Homo sapiens: one gene and its partners. The protein of the gene in region 2 interacts with the protein of the main gene of each other region in a biochemical or structural test. Each region holds a gene or a part of one and is shown on either strand. Other genes may lie near its edges.

Region 1 (7,024 bases), on a different chromosome or scaffold from region 2:
TCAAAAGCAATTGCTCAATTATCAAACATAGCCAGTGTGAGTTCTGAAATAAAGGTGCTGATTGAATGTGCAGCTTTATGGTGGATTTTGCTATTCAGGCAAGCATTTTAATTTTCTGCCTGTTAAATTCTGTTTTCTTTAGTTTTTCATATGTGGTTTATTGTAGCTTAGGAATAGATAACTGAGAGTATATATTACACATACAACATTCTGATATGGCAATATTTAAAACAACTTGTCTGTTTTAGAACTAGAATTAAACATAATCATCTTCAGTATTTTGCAAATAAGCTCACTGCCATCCAGAAACATTGTCAATGCATCTGTTGCTCCTTCTAGAAGACACAGTCTGTCCAGCACAAAGTTACTTAGTCCCCAGATGTCTGGAGAAGAGGAGGATTCTGACTTGGCAGCCAAACTTGGAATGTGCAATAGAGAAATAGTACGAAGAGGGGCTCTCATTCTCTTCTGTGATTATGTCGTAAGTTTGAAATGCCTGTAAACGGGGTTGAGGGAGGTGGGGACCAGGAGAACATCCTGTGTAGATGACACTTGCATGGACCCTCTGGAACCCAGACCGCCCGGTGTCCTGCCAAGCTCCATCGAAACTAAATCTAGAATGAATGTTTACTTCTGCTGTGACATATAATTGGAGACCAGGCCTGGCCTTCCAGTCACTGGATTCTAAGTTGGACTGTGAGAGTTTTTGCAGCTGACTCATTTATCAAATGCCCGGCTATTGGCTCACGCCTACATGATGCTGGGTATGTTTGTTAATTTGAGGGAAGCAATGGAATAATAATAACTAATGATTTAAAAAACAAAGTAAGTGCATTGACTGTAGTGGGGTTCTGATTTTAAATTTTTTTAAAAATTAATACCAGGAGCAGTGGCTTATGCCTAAATTCCAGCAACTCGAGAGGCTGAGGTAGGAAGATCACTTGAGCCCAGGAGTTTGAGACAAGCCTGGGCTATGGTGTGAGACACCCATCTCTAAAAAAATAAAAAATAAAAAATTATCCAAGTGTGGTGGCTCGTGCCTGTAATCACAGCTCTTTGAGAAGCTGAGGGCGGAGGATGGCTTGAGCCTGGGAGTTCGAGACCAGCCTGGCAACACAGAGAAACCCTGCCTCTACCAAAAAAAGAAAGAGAGGAAGAAAGAAAAATTAGCCTGGCGTGGTGGTGCATGCCTGTGGTCCCAGCCACCTGAGAGACTGAGAAGGGAGGATTGCTTGAGCCCAGAAGTTTGAGGCTGCAGTGAGCTGTGACTGTGTCACTGCACTCCGGCCTGGGTGACAAGGCGAGACCCCTGCTCTAAAATAATTTTTTTAAGTTAATTTGTAGAAAAGGTGTTAGATGTTCTTTGTCACATTTTATGATGGATTCCTGTTTAAATGCCGTTCTCTTTAAAGAAAAAAAAATAACTTGTGGGAGTTTTTAACCATAAAACTAGCATCACATATTTACCATGGAGAATTTACAAAAAAACAAATAAACGGAGGAAAATAAAACCTCCTGTAATCATACTACTCAGAGATAACTTGCTGTTAGATTTTGGTCTAGATTTAATACTTTTTCTATATTTATATTAAAAATATTTAAAACATATGCATTTCTTTGTCACAAACATGGTATCTTATAGATACTACTGTCACATAGCAAAACAGTGTTAAATATTCTGAATCAGAAAAGGAAGCCGACTCTCCAACTGAAAGAGGTGTTATCCTAGAGACTTTTTCTGGTGATGACAATTTATTAATAGTCACTTTTTGCTTTACTTTCTCTATTGAAGTAGTTTTTCTATTTTGTTCTACTTTTAAGGATAATATAATTTATAATGCTGTTTTTCACAGAAATATAAGAAAAAAGATACTAATTTTATAAGTTAATAAAGTTTGATCATCCCAAATCCAAAAATCTGAAATCCAAAATGCTCCAAATTCTGAAGCTTTTTGAGTGCTGACATTATGTTCAAAGGAAATGTTCATTGGAAGGTTTCAGATTTTCGGATTTAGGGAGCTCAACAAATAAGTATAATGCACATATTTCAAAACCTGAAAAAAATCCTAAATTCAGAATACTTCTGATCCCAAACATTTCAGATAAGGGTTATTCAACCTGTACTGTCAGATGATCCCAAATGAAAAATATTAATCGTTAACCAAATATCAAGGAATTGATCACATTTTACAGTTTCTGCCTAGGATTATGAATCAAGATGAAAAGGCTCTGCATGTTTAAAAATATATATTTTTATTTTCTTATAAATCTTAAATATCTACACTTAAGATTTATTTGATATGTGGGATCCATTCATATTTTGGATTCAACAGTTCTGTCAAAACTGTGGCAGTGATAGGGGATTCTTTTTTTCCCACTGAACTATCACAAAATTGGAAAAAGAGTAATTGGAGAACCCCACTGGCTTAGCCGGCCCGAAGCCCGGGAGAGGGCAGGCAGTGCTGTGGATGGGGTCATCCCAGCGCAACGCTGCCCCTGCTACCTGCGGATCTCGCTGAGGCCTGCCTTTGTCCTTTGACCCTTGGCCATTTGTTAGTGTCTCTGAGAGCTGGACTGCTGTACCCTACTTCCCCAGGGGGCCTAACTTCACACAGCCTCTGCCGCAGTGCGTGGTTGGAGGTGACGGCCTTGGTAAATCGAGTTTCCTACCTCCTCAATTATTTGTGCTCATACACTGTATATTTTTAGTGAGGTTTATATTTGGGATGTGTTTTCTCCTTCTTACCCTTTCTGGCCTTTCTATGGCATTAATACCTGGTCTCTTCTTGTGTACTTGAAAATGAATCTCTCATCATATTTTTCCTTAGTGTCAGAACCTCCATGACTCCGAGCACTTAACGTGGCTCATTGTAAATCACATTCAAGATCTGATCAGCCTTTCCCACGAGCCTCCAGTACAGGACTTCATCAGTGCCGTTCATCGGAACTCTGCTGCCAGCGGCCTGTTCATCCAGGCAATTCAGTCTCGTTGTGAAAACCTTTCAACTGTACGTCTTCATCCTGCCGACTATTGCCAGTTGCAGTTTTCCCTGCCTTAAAAATGGAGTATTGAAATTTTTAACTTTAATTTCTGATTTGCAAAATAGTCATCTTTTGTTCTTTTCCTTCTTGCTGTTAGCCAACCATGCTGAAGAAAACTCTTCAGTGCTTGGAGGGGATCCATCTCAGCCAGTCGGGAGCTGTGCTCACGCTGTATGTGGACAGGCTTCTGTGCACCCCTTTCCGTGTGCTGGCTCGCATGGTCGACATCCTTGCTTGTCGCCGGGTAGAAATGCTTCTGGCTGCAAATTTACAGGTATTGGGAAGAGAAACCCTGATATTGATTTATATTGAAAATTTAGCAGGCCAAGCAAAACAGGTGGCTGGCTTTTTCCTCCGTAAGTATGGTCTTGACATGGTCACCGATAGAAACATGGAAACATCTGCAAACTTGCCGTTACTCGTGTGTCCGATCTGACTGTTTCTTGTATTTTTTTCTAGTCTGCCCTTACTAGGATGAACTGTACACATCAGTTCATCCTTTTTAAATGAGCATGAGGTTATTTTGGGTTGTTAGGTGTTACAAACACACTAATGTGTTTTTGTCTATTAGAGCAGCATGGCCCAGTTGCCAATGGAAGAACTCAACAGAATCCAGGAATACCTTCAGAGCAGCGGGCTCGCTCAGAGGTAATGCTGGAAACACAGGTCGTCCTTGTGTTAGGACAACCCAGGATATAAAGGATATAGATTTGTACGGGAATAAATTCACAGGACAAGAAATCGATGTGCCTTATAGGTGGGTTTACTGCAGAAGTGCCATAATAGAACCTTCCTACTTTTAAAACAACCAGATCTCACTTTCTAAAGAGTAAAGGATGACCGGCAGGATCACGTCTGTGACGTGAGTGGAGGCAGTTTGCACTCCTGGTGGCTGTTTGAGAGGTAGCATTTAGAATGCCTGTATTCACTGTCCTGTGATGAGTGGGAAAATAGGTTATCAGGTTTATCTTAGCAAAATCAAAGCATGTCATCTAATTGCTAAACAAGAGTTGGCAAATCTGAGAGACATTACTCAATCCTTGGCATGCAGGACTTACATCTGCATCCTGTTGCCATTTTATGTCTTCAAAGCATTTAATCATTTAGTTGTGTTTGCAAAGTCTTTGAGAAGCCTTTGTCAGAAATCCCTACATCTCCTATGTGAGTGTATTTCCATGACTGCAGAATAAGTTAAACTTTTACCTTTTTCCTTCCCTTGCGGGGCGGGGTGGGGGGCAGGGATTGTGTGTGTGAGAGGGAGAGAGAGACAGCAGAGAAGGAGAATATAATTATCATGCTGTGTACTTTGAGCTGAAACTGCAAAAAAGGAAAAACACACAAAAATTATTATGCTTTTCAGTCTTTAGAGTACCTTGTCTATTATGCTTTTCAGTCTTTAGAGTACCTTGTTGATGGTGTTTTTAAATGGGATTGGGCACAATTAGGTGGACAGTTTGGGATGATTTTTCAGTCTGTAGGGCCAAGCTCTTTTGTAATTTGCATTATGAAGTTGTCACTCTCATAGCAGATGGCGGGAGATAAACTATTATTACTTTTTGACCCTAGACTTAGTCTTCAGTCCAGATGAGGGAGATTAAAAGATTATAAATATCTTGTGCCAGATGAGGTGATTTTATTTTGAAATGACCATGAATTCCTATCAGTTGTCTTACTGGGATATTTGATAGTGGAATTTGTGCATTTGAGTCTTAGATGATCTGTTTTACATTTATTAAGAAAGCCTTTATTAGCTTTTATACTGTGTATTGCCTGTTGCAGTGTTTGAGTATAAATGAAATTTCTGGAAAATATTAATGGAGTACAAACTGTGATACTTAAAAGTAAACTAGGGCCTGCATTTGTATCATGACCTGTTTGAGTATTGATGAGAAGATAGCTGTGAAGAAAAAGGTTTAAACAAGTGTATTTTCCTTTAAGAAGCCACTAATAGTGCATCTCCTTAGAGTGTATATTTCTAGAATCCTAGTGTGCAGAGTTTAGACTAAGACTAAAAAAAAAAAAAAACAAATTATACTGTAATTTCATTTTTATTTGTATTTTAGACACCAAAGGCTCTATTCCCTGCTGGACAGGTTTCGTCTCTCCACCATGCAAGACTCACTTAGTCCCTCTCCTCCAGTCTCTTCCCACCCGCTGGACGGGGATGGGCACGTGTCACTGGAAACAGTGAGTCCGGACAAAGTAAGTGTCCAGCGTGTCTGCATGGGAGGCACAGGGCGCTGAGTGCCTCTGTCACCTGTGGCAGATACAGAGAGTGCAGAGGAGGTGCCGTGGACCCAAGGAGTTCTGGCGCTCGGCTCGGCTCAGTGAAGCTGTGGTTAGAGACGTGGGGGGCCATCAAGGTCTGAGGGAGCCAAGCAGTGCTGATGTGGGACCCTTTTGGTAGGAGTGTGGGGTGAGTAGTTAGTGGGTGAATCAAGGAATAGTCGGCCGTGGCCTGCAGGCCCCTGACTGCACAGGCCTTCAAGCACATGTCAATGCCGTTAGCCTCCCTCCATCTCCTCATACCTTCTGGCCACCTGTGAGTTGCACTGCCACTGCCAGCCATTCTGGTATGTTGTCAGCACCTCCACTGCTCATACCTCATGGTTAGGGACCACCTGGAGCCTTGGTAGAGCCTTGGTAGAGCCTTGGTACTCTACTTTCCTGGACAAAGTTCAGCTTATGAATATGAATTTAGATTTCAAAAACCAGCAGCCCAAGTATAAGAAAGCGAAGGTTCAGTCCTGCCTTCTTAGGCTCTATTCGCTAAGCACCTGCCCTGCCCTGGTTGCTGGGGAGAGATGAGTAAAGCAGACAACCCAGGAGAGGATGGCAAAGGGGCCGCTAACCCTTAGTGGTTTAGCTATATTTGGAAGGCCTATTGGAAGTTCACCAGGTGAAGGGGGAGGCTGTGAGGGTGCCCAGGCAGGTAACAGAAGTCCAAAGGGGAAAACCTGTGGTGTGGTGAGCCGTATAGCCACAGCCTGCCGGCCGGCAGCCCTCTCAGCCTAGTGCGGTGTTCCCAAGCACTGGCCTAGGCCTGTAGCTCCAGGGATGTGAAGTCCCCTTGAACGCCGCCCATCATGTTCCCCTTATCCATTTTTTTCTTCCCAGGACTGGTACGTTCATCTTGTCAAATCCCAGTGTTGGACCAGGTCAGATTCTGCACTGCTGGAAGGTGCAGAGCTGGTGAATCGGATTCCTGCTGAAGATATGAATGCCTTCATGATGAACTCGGTACGGGGGGAGCAGTGGAGGCAAGGAATCCTCAGCTTTTCTTGTGACTTCCAAGTGGGATTTGTCTCATCATCATGTGACCCACTTGTTGACAACACATGTTGGGGACTCCAGTCTGGGCAGGGACGGGATGTCGGAGAGACTCCACTCTGAATGGGGCCGGGAAGTGGGGAGGACTCCATTTCAGATGGGGTCGGGACATGGGGGTTATGCTGATCGAGACAGAAAAGCACATTGTTTCAGCCACATTAGAATCCACGGAGGTGTTGTTTTGAAATCCAGCTGGCCCCAAGGCTGGGTGTATGGTTTGGGATGAGAACTATCTGGCCTCCACTGGAGGAACAAACACAGGATGTTATCATCTAAGCTCCATGGCCAAGACAGAATGGAAGTCAAGGTTGCGTATTTGCCGTAGACTTCAACACAGTGTCGTAATGCGTGACGTCAATAACTTGTTTCTAGTGTCTTGGAAGTTGATCTTTAGTCGTAAAAGAGACCCTTGGATGCAGCGAGATTTCCTCTACTCACACCTCTGTTAGATGTAGTGAGGTTCTTCACCCCCCAACCCCAGATGTCAGAGGGCACCCTGCGCAGAGCTAGGAGGCCATGCAAAGCCTTGGTGTCCCTGTCCCTCACCCGTGGGCAGGTCCTGTGAGCAGTGGGGGGGCCACCTCTTGGGTATGGTGCAGCCATGGCCCAAGCAGGGCTTCTTCTCAGACCTACTAGGACGGGAGAAACCTCC
Region 2 (7,024 bases):
GTCTCCAAAGATGAATTTATCAGATTTCATCAAAAGGATTTGTTTTCCATTTCTTTTTAAACTAACAGCCCATCTATGCCCAAGAAAAATCTGAAGAAACAAACATGTACGTGAAATCAGTGATGGGTTTTTTTTTTTTTTTTAAGTCTTTTTATCAAGAAAAAGAGGAATTACACTGAGAAAACATAACGTGGGCCTCCAGCAACTCTCACAGCATAGAGCTTGCTGCCTGAGTGGTGCTTAAAGGAAAAAACTGACACAAATCCAATTTAGTAAAAGATACCATTTTTTCTAATAAATTATATTTATTTACAAAAGGTCTAATTTTATATAACTATGAGGTTCTTTTACATCAGAATAATATATAAACAGAGGTGAAAATCTGGTAATTACAAACACAGAAAATAGAAACCTTGTTCCCTTATTTATTACTCACCTTTCAGAACAAGTCCTTGGCTCAGTTGTAGAGGTGGGGAAGACCAACACCTACCGAAGTTTGCAGGCAGGAGCCCCCAAAAATGTTTATAAATAACACATTTAGATACCCTAAGGAACAGCAGTGAAGAATAGCATCAAGGAATGGCTTAGTTTGAATCTGATCTAATTCACCAGCCACTCACTGTTTCATTGTCCACGACTAGGGGCAGGGAGGATTAGCCAGTATGAATGTCAACTTTACAAGTAGGGTAATTACCATCAAATTAACAATTACCAATCACTAGCACTGAGATGGCTTTGAACTAGATCCTACTGAGAATCACAAAAGCAGTTTTGATAGTCTTAAGCTATTATAGCTAAGTGTCTTAAAATGGAGGGTTAGGGAGAATGTGTGGGTAATTAGAGCAAAATCATCTCTCACTTTCCACCTCACCTTTAAGACAGCTCCAAAAAACTGAGTGCCTGACATGTCACCATATTTCAGCCCTATTCAAAAATAGCCCAAAATGATGAGTTTTCAACTTTAAATTGTATGTTCTCACAAGTTTTGGACATGTCTGAAGTAAAAGCTAAGGTACAGTCACTGGACCTTATTTTGGGTGCACTTCAATTATGACTGTGACTTTAGTGGTGGGTTAGTATGGTTTATTGCAATGATGCTTTTTTAAGCCCTTTAATACAGATGATGGGTACCATGGATGCCAGATGAATACATATTTCAACTAGTATTTTACATTCATTCCAAAAGTGCCTATTATATGCCAGGCACTGTCCTATTCCACAAGGATATATAACAGTAAATGAACCAGATAAATCCCTGCCACCGAGGAACTTACATGACCACCAGTTAAAATCAAAACAATTGGAAGAGTAATGTAAGAATAAGGATGGTAAGAATCATCAGACTGGTATACGCCATTACCAGAAGCACAGAATGAGATTATAAGCCTGTTAGAACACAGTTCCATGAAAGTAACGACATTATTTTGCTTTCATGTAAAATGAGTGTAATTTTATATAGAGAATGTAGGATGGTTGAATTAACATCTACCTAACACTGAGAGAAATATATACCCAAGGGAAAATAAAAAGTCTCAGATTTAAGATAGAAGGAATTAATGTACTTTGCTTCATTTTGTTTAGAAAGTTTTAAAAGCTGAAGTTTTTTAGTTTGATAATTTATATTTAAATTACATAATATACTTAAATATCCTTTTTTAAAAAAGCATTCATCACTCCTCCCTGGGTACTATGTGATTACAAATAGTTTTCTCTTACATAGCATCTAAGCTTAAAAAAAAAAATCTTCATATAAAGGGAGTTACTCCTTTCTGGATGCAAAAATACGAGTGGCTGCATAGCCAGCACTCAGCTGACTCTAAGACCAGAAGAAAACCGGGAACATTTAGACAAATGTTTTTTAAAGCATATAACCAAATTATATAATTGAATGAAAACTGAATTACACAGTTTGAAAACTTTCCAGAAAAATGCACACAGGTTTTTTTCTAGGAGTTTTTACAGTTTCTTCATCCTACCATTAACTGATTCCCTTACTTTAGGACAATCCTTTTTCATGTTATAGTTGTACGAAGTGAGGCCCATAAGCAAAAGTCAAAAGATGACAAAGCTGTGACAAATCATTATCAAATTTACTGGGAGGCATAAAATGCACTTTTGAAGTTGGAAAACATCAATAACTTATATGCTGAAGCTACTCTGGCTAATGATAACAAAATGCCAGCTACTATGCTGAAAAAAATGTGGTGGGACCACTGCTTTTATTTAAAAGCATTACATTATTTAAATTCACTTAGGAAGAGTGTATACTTCATACTTGATTAGCTTAATTATCTAACTTTTCATACAAATTCAATTTTCGCACAAAGAAATATGAACTGGGAGAAAAAAATATTTAAAGTCCTGATTTTGAATAACTATGATATTAAATGTATAAGTGAATTTGATCTAATAGTTCATTAGTATTAATGACACTGGGGGAAGACAAACCCTCAACATTTTCCTAAGACTCCAAGACTTTAATGAAAAGTATAAATTCCCCTTATCTGAAAATAAACACGCTTTCCTGTTTTACCATATTTAACTCTAATAGAACCAATATTCCAAGACGTTTCAGTTTTTTACCAAATTGAAGATTTAAAAACATAACCTATTAGTTTAAAAATATTCACAGAGAACAAAATCTTATCACCTGTGCCTTCAGACTGTCAAGTATCTTTCTAGCAACTAAATCCCATTTGATGGGATCCTGAAAGGTAGACAAAGGATCACAGTCACTTAAGTTACATCTTTTATGGCAAGGATGTTGCATTTTGAATTGCAATTGGCTTACTACTATGGTTGTTTTTAAGTCAAATAATTTTCATGGGTGAACTACAGGGAAACTTTATACTGTGTTGTAGGGATTTGCGGTTATAGTAAGATTATCTCTGTAAGAAATACAGGAATCTATTTTGAGGACATGCTAAAACACATCAATAGCTTTTTATTTAAATAGAAAAATCAAAACTTTAAAGTTATACTTTAGAAATAATTCATGGAAGTAATTAATGTTTTCTACAGATTCTAAGATTCTTTTGTGAAACATCAGTAGTATATATTTGCCAGTATCAAATGCATACTTTAAAGATTTGCCACTGACTTCCATGTCAAGTGATTGACATGATTAGCAATATTAACTCACTACAATGGGACCTCTGAAAATTGAGTCTAGACAACTCCCTGTTGCCAAAGTTATTATGTGTTTTGGCTCTAATATACAATAGGAGACTAATCTCAAGCAATTTGATTACTTCACATTTTCTCCAAGATGAGTCTTCCTACAAGCCTGGTCATATTTCACAGCAGAAAAATGACTTGGGAGACAAAATGAGAAACAATCCCCTCACCCACCCCTTCAGCCTTTAAAGAGTAGACATTATATTTAATTCAAACGGGGCAAAATGGGAAAGAGACATTCTGGTCAGGCCCACTTTCAAAACTCACTAGGATGGGTAAGAAAAAAACTTTTTGTTCTTCAAAATCCCAACTTTGAAATAGGATCTCTTCAAGTGTACACATTAAAAGAATAACACAGATAATACCGAAGAATAGGTGCTAAAATTTACTTATTTACTTAAAAAATCTCCTGCACTGAAGGAAAATAGTATAAATTACATTACCAACCTTCAAAAGTTAGCATGTAAAGAGTATTCTGTCTTCAAACCACAGCCTCTCTAAAATAGTCTGTAAAAAATTCATAGGTGAAAAACAAATCTAGGGACCTCAAATGCACTGATTTATAATATTCTTAAATATTAAAAAAGGAAAGTAAACTAGCGGTGTGGGTAAGATGAAGCAAAATTTCAGGGATTTAGTACCTTTAAAGTGATCATACAATTTCTTTAGAGCTGAGCAGTTTAAGTAGAAATAAATACTAGTACACACTAGAAGAGAAGGTTTAATAATTGATAAAAATGTACAAAAATATTCAAATCAGAAATGCTTTAGAATGTGTACCACGAAGTCAATACTTCTCAGTGAGTAGGGAAGGCAAAATACTTCCTCAATAGCAGGGAAAAAAAAGCAAGAGAAAGACTGAATTTAGAAAAAAAAGACAACTGTTAAAGAAAATGTTTAAGTCAACTTTTTTTTTTTTTTTAGACAAGGATATTGCAACTATCACTTAAAGTCTGGTGGCACATTCTTTAGTAGGTCCTTAAGGCAATATATTTAAATTAATTTACAATTTGATTTGATGTTAAAGTTTTTTTAAACATCACCTCAAAATAGATGCTCAAAATAATGCCCTCACAATAGCCTTTGTAAAATGTATTCAGATGTTTGATAAAAAATAATGGTGGCTTTATATTACAGTAGTGCTCATTAGCACCACTATAATTAAGGGTCTACCAAGTTTCCAGCAAAACCACCTGTTTCTTAGGAGTTTCACCATAAAAGATCACATTGGCTTTAACCAGTTGGGTAGCGCACAAAAAAGCAATTTTTATCAGTTGCTGGTGCTTTTTTTGTACTACTATATTATCAAAAAATTTTTCATTAGATCTTCAAAATCCAGCTTCTATAAAGTAAATCAAATCACCTCATGACTTAGATTTTAGAACAAAGTAGAGACATCTGCAGTTATCAGTAAATTGCCACCTTTAATCCATCCTACAGTGCCCTGTGAAAGGGTCACAGAAAGACAGTTATGACTGTATGAAAATATGATTCTTGATACAGAATCAAAAGTTACTTTCAATTTCCTTTGCTTTTATAAAGTCCACGATAACAATACTTAAATGCACTTTTTTTTTCCTGTGATATAATTAAAACCCAGTGTTATTTCAGTTGAACTTAAAATAGAGTCCCTGGTCTGAATCAGACTTTAAATCATACTGTAAACATATATTTGGTATAATTTATTGATCATCATCCAGTTGCTCCAAAAGGGTTCTTCTGCGCTTTTCCAATTCCCCTTCACTCAGTTCGCTGCCAGAAGTATCCCAATTACCCTGAAAAGACATTGATTACAATTATAGTTGACATCAGTACTCAGAGGTTTACGGGCTGAGCCTTTGAAAAAAGAATCCAATATCTATATAAACTCTCTTCCAAAGAAACACATTTCACAGGGTTTAAAGACTGTGTGAATATGAAGCAATATTTCCATTTAATGGAAGCCAGGTATTCATTTCCTAGATAATACATTCCTTGCTAATTTTTTTGTTGAGACAGAGTCTTGTTCTTGTCACCCAGGCTGGAGTGCAGTGGCACGATCTCGGCTCTCTGCAACCTCTGCCTCCTGGGTTCAAGCAATTCTCCTGCCTCAGCCTCCTGAGTAGCTGGGATTACAGGTGCCTGCCACCAAGCCCGGCTCATTTTTGTATTTTTAGTAGAGATGGGGTTTTGCCATGTTGGCCAGGCTGGTCTCGACTCCTGACCTCGTGATCTGCCCACCTCGGCCTCCCAAAGGGCTAGGATCACAGGTGTGAGCCACTGCACCTGGCCTATTCCTTGCTAATTTTGTAGCTTCCCCCTGGTTCCACAAGTATTATCACAGAAACAGAAGTAGTATGCTTTAAGCATATGGATTCCTGTGCCAAATAAATACACAAGACTAATGAGCAGGACAAGATTTAGGCTGAACAAACAAAAATAATACTGCACCGTAAGACACAACCTTTGAAAAGTGGATAGTTCCCATATCGTCCTCTTTCATTCACTCCAGGGATTTCATTTAACCCACCATAAGCTGCTAGAAAGTACAAAGGAAACATTCACTCTTCACTTACGATGTGACTCAGACTCACCTGTTTCAGCTCTAAAAAAAAACCCACCCTATACCAACGAATCAGAATATCCAGAGATCCCTAATAGGGTTTTACCTACATAGTTTATGCTCTCCAGTGATGATTCATAGGCATTTACCCTTGCTAAACCCACAGCATTTGCATTATTAGGCTCTGTCATTCATATATACATATATTTGAAAAGGACTAATTATGTAATCTGTTATTGAAATACTAACTTTGGCTTATATTCTCCTCTCCTATTTATTTGCCCTTCCTCCACCCCAAATCAGTATTTCTAAAAGTTACTGGAATTGCTACCTTTTGAAACAAAGGATTTAATAACAGTGACAACTGTAGACATCTGTAGAATCCCAGATTTAGTCTCTCACTTAAAAAAAAAATTTGAAAATTAGGTAAAAAATGTCCAGTGGCACTTCTTAGTGACCATATCCTTTCTTAGTGAGTTAATAAGGCTATAGTTATGAAATGCTATATTTAAAAAATATCAAATTTAGGAGAATAAAATCTAGGATCATGCATGACCAAAAACTATGATATTGTGTGAAATGTACTTAACTGAATTTTCACTGTTTTCTTCAATGGTAGCACACCTGGAAAAAAGCCTATTCTTTCAACACCATCATGGTTTAACCACAGAATACATTTTTGCATTTTGAAAATACAGGCATGAAACAATTCTAAATACTTACAGAATCCTTTCCAGTCTTTTTCTTAGGCGATTTGTGTTTTGATTCTGATCTTTGTCTAGTTCTGTCTTTTTCACTTTCCCGATCTTTTTCTTTTTTATCCTTCTCTCGCTCAGCATCGGATTCTGGAGAGTCCTGTATGAATAGAAAATAACAGGTTAGCATTTTGATGAAGATACCATTGTTATATAGGTAATATTTAAGAACATCTATGTGTAACAGGTTATGTGCTCTTAGAGAGATGAAATAAAATGTGAATTGTTAACCTCAAGGATTTAGTAAAATTTACCCAAGATTCATGGGGACAGCTTTCCCTTGGGAAGGATAATATTCTGAAGGATAAAATACCACTCATGAGACTTACTACCACATAATAGATGTGTAGTATCTATTATGTAAATACAGACAGATACTACATTTCTCACCAACTCAATATAATATTGGTTTATATATGTACATAGTATACTGCTGTTAGCTTTAACACATAAGGCAGACAGCTGTATTAATAAAATTATTTTCTTGAAATTGCTGAGTAGGAATTATTTAAAATTTAACGTTAGTGCTTAAATGGTTATTCATTAGATA
Region 3 (7,576 bases), on a different chromosome or scaffold from region 2:
TGAGAACAAGCTGCTCTTAGCTAATTAAAAGATTTCTGCTGATATTAACCTTTATAAAAGATTTCAGGTTCCAGGACACGTCATTTATCATGCAGAGTCCCAAGCAGGTACATTAGCAATGGAAACCAGGCTCCAATAAGGAACTAACAATTTTATCTCTGTTGTTCTTTATTTTAGGTTAAAGAAATGAACTTCTCGTTTCATCTCCACATGGGAGGAATGTTCTGGAGGGGGTAACAGCCTATTAAACTCATCTAGCTTTTTTTTTTTTTTTTCAAACTCCACAGCTTGCCTCCCTACCCTACTAGACTAGATTGCACAGAGGCAGGGCAGGCACGGGAAACGACTCTGGTTGGAAATTACAAACATATACACACAGAATGCAAGCACCATAACCCTTTGAATACACAGTGGTTTGTGCCTTGCCCCAGACCTACCTAAGGATTTAAACAGCACAGAAGTCGGAGTTCGGCTGACTGCATGACACTCTCCTATCAATCGGGTGAAACAAAGACCCAGTACTCTAAGCTTAAAGCATTCCAGGCAAAATTTTAGTTAACAGGCAATAGGAAGGTGTGATAGGCCAGTGCTAACAAGAAAGCCACAGATGGGTTTCTTTGAGCTGTTAAGACACTGGAAAGGGCTGGTATGGAAGCCCAGTGGAGCCATTAGGACAATGGAAAAGGAGGTACCCCTCCACCAGGCACTTTGCAGAGAAAACTATACTCTGGAAGCTGCCTGCACTGTTGATAGGGCTAGACGTATGATAAACAGCTAACCGGAGGGGCACCCGAGGAGACAAACTGCCAACTATGAAGAACAAAGCAGAGACCTCAACTTGTCACGTCTCAAGCTCAGATGTACAAACTTTGGGATCGTCAAGTGAGGCTCGTGTGTATGCCTGGGGATATGACTGTATTCCAGTGATCAGCCACCTAGCTGACCTGCCACGAATGGGTGACCTGTGGTGACTTACTTTAATCAACTGTAGTACTTCTAGATTGATTGGGTGATTTAAGGTTCTGACATATTCAGGCAAGAAAATAAAAGCAAGTGTTTCCTAGACTTCCTCATTGGGATTTGAAATAGAAATCCTGAAAAGCCCATAAAAGCCTATTTCCCTAAATCCTTGGTGGAAATTCCCAAAAGATTAAAAAATCCAGACCCTGTCTTATTATAGGGACCCAGCAGATTTCAAAAGACTCAAGAGGTCAGCTTAATCTGGTTATTAACTGAAATTGCTGAGATACTGATGAACATTCCAGCCATGGAACCCAAAATTCTCTAGAGTAATAATTACCTATTAGTGCAATGTTACTACTGAGGCCGTATATGCTTCATTTTTACAGTATAACAAAATGTCTAAAACTTATGAGAGTCCTACAACGTCTAGGCCACTCAGTATCACATCCAAGTAGGTATGGTTCCTGGATCACCAACCAACCCCTGAATTCGATCCTGTTATCTCACAGTCTGGGGTACTGATCCCGCACAGCAGAGACACAACGTGTGAAAGGCTCGGCAGAGCCCATTCCTGTTCCTGGAAAAATAACCAGAAGCACACATCTGCCTGACCATGAGTCAGGAATATCAATTTTGTGGTGGAGCCCATTTCTGCTGTGACCAACCCACACCCGAACACACTCGCAACAGAAGCAACCGCCACAGAGCAATTCCAGAATGAGCTTTTTCCCCCTCGGGGTCCATACTTAGCAATGTCATAAACGGTCTCCCCTGCGACAGCAATCCTTTTACACTCTTCATAATGACCTTAAGTCTTTAGTGCAAAACCACAGAAACATTGCCACTGCCATATAAAAGTCATCTGAGTTTCAGTTTGGGTGATTCGGTCATGACCAAACTGAACAGAGGATAACCTTTCAGGCACAATTAACAGGAGCCACAGCGTCGCGATGAACTTGCCCCATCTGGTACCGGTGATCCCGAGCGCTCCAGGGCGATGAGAGCCCGTTACCTACTATGTCCCACTCCACTTATGTAACTGGAAGATCGCCGGCGAAGGGGAGGGTAGGATGGGAGGGTGCTCACATTCCGAGGCCACAGCACTCCAAAGAACCTCTGAGCACCCTGGGGACACGCTCGCACCTTAGAGCCTCTGGCGCCGAAGAGCCTCGGGTGCTGCTGGACGCACAGTCCCCTACCCACGGCTCCTGATGGGAACTATAACCACCTCTTTATGATGAGTTGTGGGACCCAGAACACAATGTCTAGTCCCTTTTGTGGATAATAATCCCCACCTACTTGTTCCTGCTAGATGGGGAAAGGAGCCGGTGGACCTACTCGCTCGCGGGGGGGTAGCGGGGGGCAGAAATTCATGGAATGGGCGAGAAGGAGGGGGAGGCAAAGCCCAGAGATGGGGGTGAGAGCTCAGGAGCCCTTGTGGCGCACTCTCCCGACGGGAGGCGAAGTGCGCACGCGCGCCGGTGGGGGGGCCGAGTAACGGGAGAGGGGGCGCGCGAGGGAGGGAGGGGGAGAGCGCGATCCAGGGAGAGGCCGGGGCCGCGGGCGCGCGACGGCGCCGCGGCCCAAAGCCCCGAGAAGGGCAGGAGCGCGCGCAGCCCCGACAGGCGAAGCCCCGGCGACAGGGGCGCCCGCGGGGCCGGGGGCCGGGATGCGCGTCGAGGGCGGGAGGAAGAGGGGCGTCAGGCGAAGGCGGCTCCAGGGAGGCCGCGCCGAGGACGGTCACCCGCGAGCAGGGGTGACGGGCCGAGGGGAGAGTCGCCACCGGCGGCGGCGGGAGGGGGAGGGTAGAGAGGAGGGACGCCATCCGCCAGCCGTGTCGTCCGACCCCGCGGGCCCCTCCCGCGCCACGTCCCGCCCCTGACCCCCGCCCCCCGGCAAGGGTCCCCGCCCGCGGCCACGGCGGTCCCACTCACAGTCTCTCCTCCTCGCCTCCTCCTCCTCCTCCGCTCGGCGCGGCGGCGGCGGCGGCGGCCATTTTCCGGACGGCTTTTACCACAGCCCTCTCTCCGAGAGGAGGGAGCGCGCGCGCCGCCGACGCCGGGACCCCGCACGGCCGACGTCGCGCCCCGCCCTCTTGGCCGGCCCGCGCGCTGCTGCACCTGCGCGCCCGCGCCCCGCCCTCGGCGCCGCTGCGAGCCCGCCCGTCATTGGCTGTGATGGCCGGGCTGGGACGGGGAGGACGGGGGAGGGGGGAGTCTCAGCGGCGATGCCGTCAATTGGCGAGATTTCCTGTCCATTTCGGCCAGGGAAAAGGGGGCGGACCCCTCCAGCTGTTGATTGGCTGCTTTCGGCCGTCGTTTGGGGAAAAGAGGCGGCTTGGGCGCGGAGGGACTGGTTTAGTGGGCGGAATTTGAATGTTAAGGATTAATGGACCCTTGCGGATGCTGGGGCAAGTGAAGGCCTAGGCTTGGGACGCCTGTTTGCGCTGCTCTGAGGGGCGATTGACCCTCTGTCCACAGATGCACCGAGTGCGCTGCAATAAGCGTTTCATTGCACCCACATTTTCTCAATATCACTATCTTCGGCAGAAGCAGCAAAGTTGCCCACCCTGGAGCCTGACGTTGCCCCAGCTGAGGGGCCTTGGTTTCAGAGGCCTACTCAATGCATTATTTCATCCGAGCCTGCCCAGTGCTCACACTCTCATAGAGGCGGGGAATAAACTGACAACAAATCGCAACCCTGGCTTTCGCAGAACTCTGGCGGGGGAAGAGAGTGCATGCCAAGGCCTCGTGACACCTGTCACTGTTGGATCAGATGGTTTGGTGGAGGTGTGAATAAGGGGCAATGTTAGCTCTGCCTGGAAGATATGATTTGGGAGCTGAGATCCAGCAATTTTTCACTTTCCTAGAAGAGTTGATTTGGAGCTGAGATCCAGCAATTGTGTTTTGGGAAAATAAGAGTATGAGAAAACTGTTAGCTAACCAGGTGTTCAGGACAGGAGTGTTTGTTAAGGGGACCTTACCCTGATGCCAGTCATTATCCAATCCATTCAATGATCCTTCTGTTAGTTCTATGCTTAGCAAGAAAACCTGATTCTGATTTGGCTGCTTGCCCCCATTCATTTATTGACTACCTGCTATGTGCCAGGCACTCTTCCAGGCTCTGGATGCACGGTACTGAACAGACAGCAAACTAACATTCTTGCCGGGAAGATTCATACTAGCATACAAATAAGTATAATATATCATTTCACATAGTGATAAGGGCTTTGAGAAAGATAAACTAAGTGAAGGGGGTGCTATTTAGATATCTGCTGGTTTTCACCCTCATTTTACTCCCTCATATGAATATCTGGGGAAAGAACATTCCAGGCAAGTTCAAAGGACATGAGGAGAGACTATGCCTGGCATGTTGGGGACTAACGAGGAAGTCAGTGTTGCTGGAGAGTGGTAGGGAATGTGATTGGAAAGGCAGCTGGGGCCACTATGAGAACTGGGAGTTCATTCTTTTTTGGGGGGGGTGGGGATGGGGTCTCATTCTGTCACCCAGGCTGCAGTGCAGTGGCGCAATCTTGGCTCACTGCAACGTCCACCCTGAGCTCAAGCGATCCTCCCTCCTCAGCGTCCTAAGTAGCTGGGACCACAGATGCGAACCACCACGCCTGGCTAAGTTTTTGTATTTTTGATAGAGATGGGAGTTCACCATGTTGCCCAGGCTGGTCTCAAACTCCTGAGTTCAAGTGATCCGCCCGCCTCGGACTCCCAAAGTGCTGGGACTACAGGCGTAAGCCACCGCACCCGGCCAGAACCGAGAGTTTATTCTAAGATGAGAAGCCCTCAGAGGATTTTGAGCCAGGAGCTGTCTGATCTATGTTGCAGGTGTAGAGTGGAGAACTGGACGTGATGAAACAAAACTACAGCACAAGGCTAGTTGCAAGGCCCTGGAACAGTCTAGGAGAAAGAGTTGATGGTAGCTTTAACTAGGGTGGCAGCAGTGCAGCTCTGAGAAGTTGTGAGATTCAAGATATGTTTTCAGAACTGAACAAAAGGATTGGATGTAGGGCATAGAGCAAGGGAAGAAACAAGGATGATTCCTGAGATTGGGGCCTGAGCAACTGGGGAAATAAGGGTGCTTTTCACCATAGTGGGGAGAACTACAGGAAAAGTACATTTTCAGAGGTGCAGATCAAGAGTTCTGCTTTGGCTGTATTAAGCTTGGGGTGCCCAGTGGTGTGAAAGTGGAGATGTTGAGTAAGCCATTGGGTGTGCGATGCTGAAGTATAGAGATGCGGCTAAAGCAGTCCAAAAGTCATCACGCTGAACATCCAATTCAAGAAGCCATAAAGAAATGACAGAGTAAGCCTGCAAAAGTAGAAGAAAGAAAAATAAGGATGAATAAAACTTAATGAAATAGAAACAAATGATGGAGAGGATTGAGAAAATTTTAAACCTGCTTCTTTGAAAAGCTGAAAAACAAAAGCCAACCCTCTAACAAGCTGGATATAAAGAGAAAAGAGAAAAGTAAATTATGTTACTCATGAAAAGGTTTTATTATGCACTGTGTGTCAGTAAATTTGAAAACATAAGCAAAAGGAATACATTCCTAGGAAAGTACAGCTTACCAAAACCGACTTTAGAAACAGAAAATCCCTGTAACCACAATGAAATTGACTATGTATTTAAAAAGCTACCCATCCTCCTACACACAGACACAGACACGCAGACACACACAGACACACACGCACACAGAGAGAGAGAGAGAGAGAGAGAGAGAAACAGACCAAGAGGGCTTTATGGATGACTTCTACCAAATCTTTAATGAGTAGGCAATTCCAATCATACACAGAAAAGAAATAAATGTCTCCAAACTTATTTTACTAGACTAATATATCTACTATGATGAGCCAAGAAAAGTATGACACAAGATGTGGAAATAAGTTTTAAAATTCTAGACAAATAAACTGAATCCTGCAGTATATGATCTATCACAACCGAGTTGAGTTTTATCCTAAGAATGCAAATATGGTTTAAAATTAGAAACCCAACCTTAACAAACTTAAGGGGAAAAACACTACATAATTATTTCAATAGATGCAGAAAAAGCATTTGATAAAATTCAACATCTACTTATGATTTTTTTTAAAAATCAGAGAACTGGAGTTCAAGACAAGCCTGGGCAACATAGCAAGAAGCAAGACCCCGTCTTTACAAAAAAAATTTAAAAATTAGACAGACGTGGTGGCACACACCTGTAGTCCCAGCTCCCTGGAAAGCTGAGGTGGAAGGATCACTTGAGCCCAGGAGTTTGAGGCTGCAGTGAGCTATGATTGCACATTGCACTCTAGCCTGGGCAACAAAGCAAGACCCTGTCTTTAAAAAAAAAAAAAAAAAAAAAAAGGTGACCAGGCACGACGGCTCACGCCTGTAATCTCAGCACTTTGGGAGGCCGAGGCAGGCGGATCACGAGATCAGGGGATTGAGATGATCCTGGCTAAAATGGTGAAACCCCATCTCTACTAAAAATACAAAAAAAAATTAGCCGGGCGTGGTGGCACGCACCTGTAGTCCCAGCTACTCTGGAGGCTGAGGCAGGAGAATCGCTTGAACCTGGGAGGTGGAGGTTGCAGTAAGCCGAGATCGTGCCATTGCACTACAGCCTGGGTGACAGAGCGAGACTCCATCTCGAAATAGATGGATGGATGGATGGATGGATGGATGGATGGATAGATAGATAGATAGATAGATAGATAGACAGACAGACAGACAGACAGATAGATAGATAGATAAAATAAAAGGTTAGGAGAGGGCAAAAAACCTGAATAGACATTTCTCAAAAGAAAACATTTAAATGACCAACAGGTATATGGGAAAAATCTCGCCAGGCACCTTGGCTCACACCTGTAATCCCAGCACTTTGGTAGGCCGAGGTGGGAAGATCACTTGAGTCCAGGAGTTCAAGGCCAGCCTGGTTAACATGGCAAGACCACTGTCTCTAAAAAAACAAAAAATTAGCCAGGCATGGTTGTGCACACTTGTCATCTCAGCTTCTTGGGAGGCTGGGGTGGGAGGATCACTTGAGCCCAGGAGTTTGAGGCTGCAATGAGCCAGGATCGTGCCATTGCACTTTGGCCTGGGTGACAGAGTGAGACCCTGTCTCGAAAAAAGAAAGAGAAGGAAGGGAGGGAGGGAGGGAGGGGAAAAAAAGTTCAACATCACTCATCATCAGGGAAATTCAAATCAAAAGCCCAATGAGATACCCCTTCAATTCAGTTAGAATGGCTTTAATCAAAAAGACAAAAGAAGACAAGTTGGCAAAGATGTGGAGAAAAGGGAATACTTTCATACTGTTGGTGGGGTAGTAAGTTAGTATAGTCAACTATGGAGAACAGTATGGAGGTTTCTCAATAAATTGAAAATAGAACTACCAGCAATCCTACTACCGGTATATATCCAAAGGAAATGAAATCAGTATGTGGAAGAGTTATCTGCACTCCCATTTTTATTGAATGACTATTCACAATAGCCAGATACAGAATCAACTTAGGTGTCCACCAACAGGTGAATGGATAAAGAAAATGTGGTACATATATGCAATGGAATAATATTCGGCCATAAAAAAGAATGAAATCCTGTCACTTAAGACAACATGAATG

Evidence for each region. Proteins that work in one complex are often made in the same cells at the same time.
Region 1: the proteins of PRPF40A (region 2) and HTT form a complex in vitro, tested with the Homo sapiens proteins (2 studies listed by BioGRID and IntAct, with this or other methods).
Region 3: the proteins of PRPF40A (region 2) and MECP2 form a complex in vitro, tested with the Homo sapiens proteins (2 studies listed by BioGRID, with this or other methods).

Annotation. Positions count from the first base shown.
Region 1 is NC_000004.12:3,203,668-3,210,691, forward strand, and holds part of HTT (huntingtin), read left to right. Parts: intron 1-339; coding exon 340-481; intron 482-2,828; coding exon 2,829-3,008; intron 3,009-3,139; coding exon 3,140-3,316; intron 3,317-3,613; coding exon 3,614-3,690; intron 3,691-5,105; coding exon 5,106-5,244; intron 5,245-6,159; coding exon 6,160-6,282; intron 6,283-7,024.
Region 2 is NC_000002.12:152,651,447-152,658,470, forward strand, and holds the end of PRPF40A (pre-mRNA-processing factor 40 homolog A), read right to left. Parts: intron 6,575-7,024; coding exon 6,443-6,574; intron 5,696-6,442; coding exon of another isoform or gene 5,678-5,695; exon of another isoform or gene 4,953-5,677; coding exon 4,860-4,952; 3' UTR 286-4,859; downstream 1-285.
Region 3 is NC_000023.11:154,094,707-154,102,282, forward strand, and holds the start of MECP2 (methyl-CpG-binding protein 2), read right to left. Parts: upstream 3,012-7,576; 5' UTR 2,960-3,011; coding exon 2,898-2,959; intron 2,264-2,897; exon of another isoform or gene 2,107-2,263; intron 2,076-2,106; exon of another isoform or gene 1-2,075. UniProt on the Homo sapiens protein: Chromosomal protein that binds to methylated DNA. It can bind specifically to a single methyl-CpG pair. It is not influenced by sequences flanking the methyl-CpGs.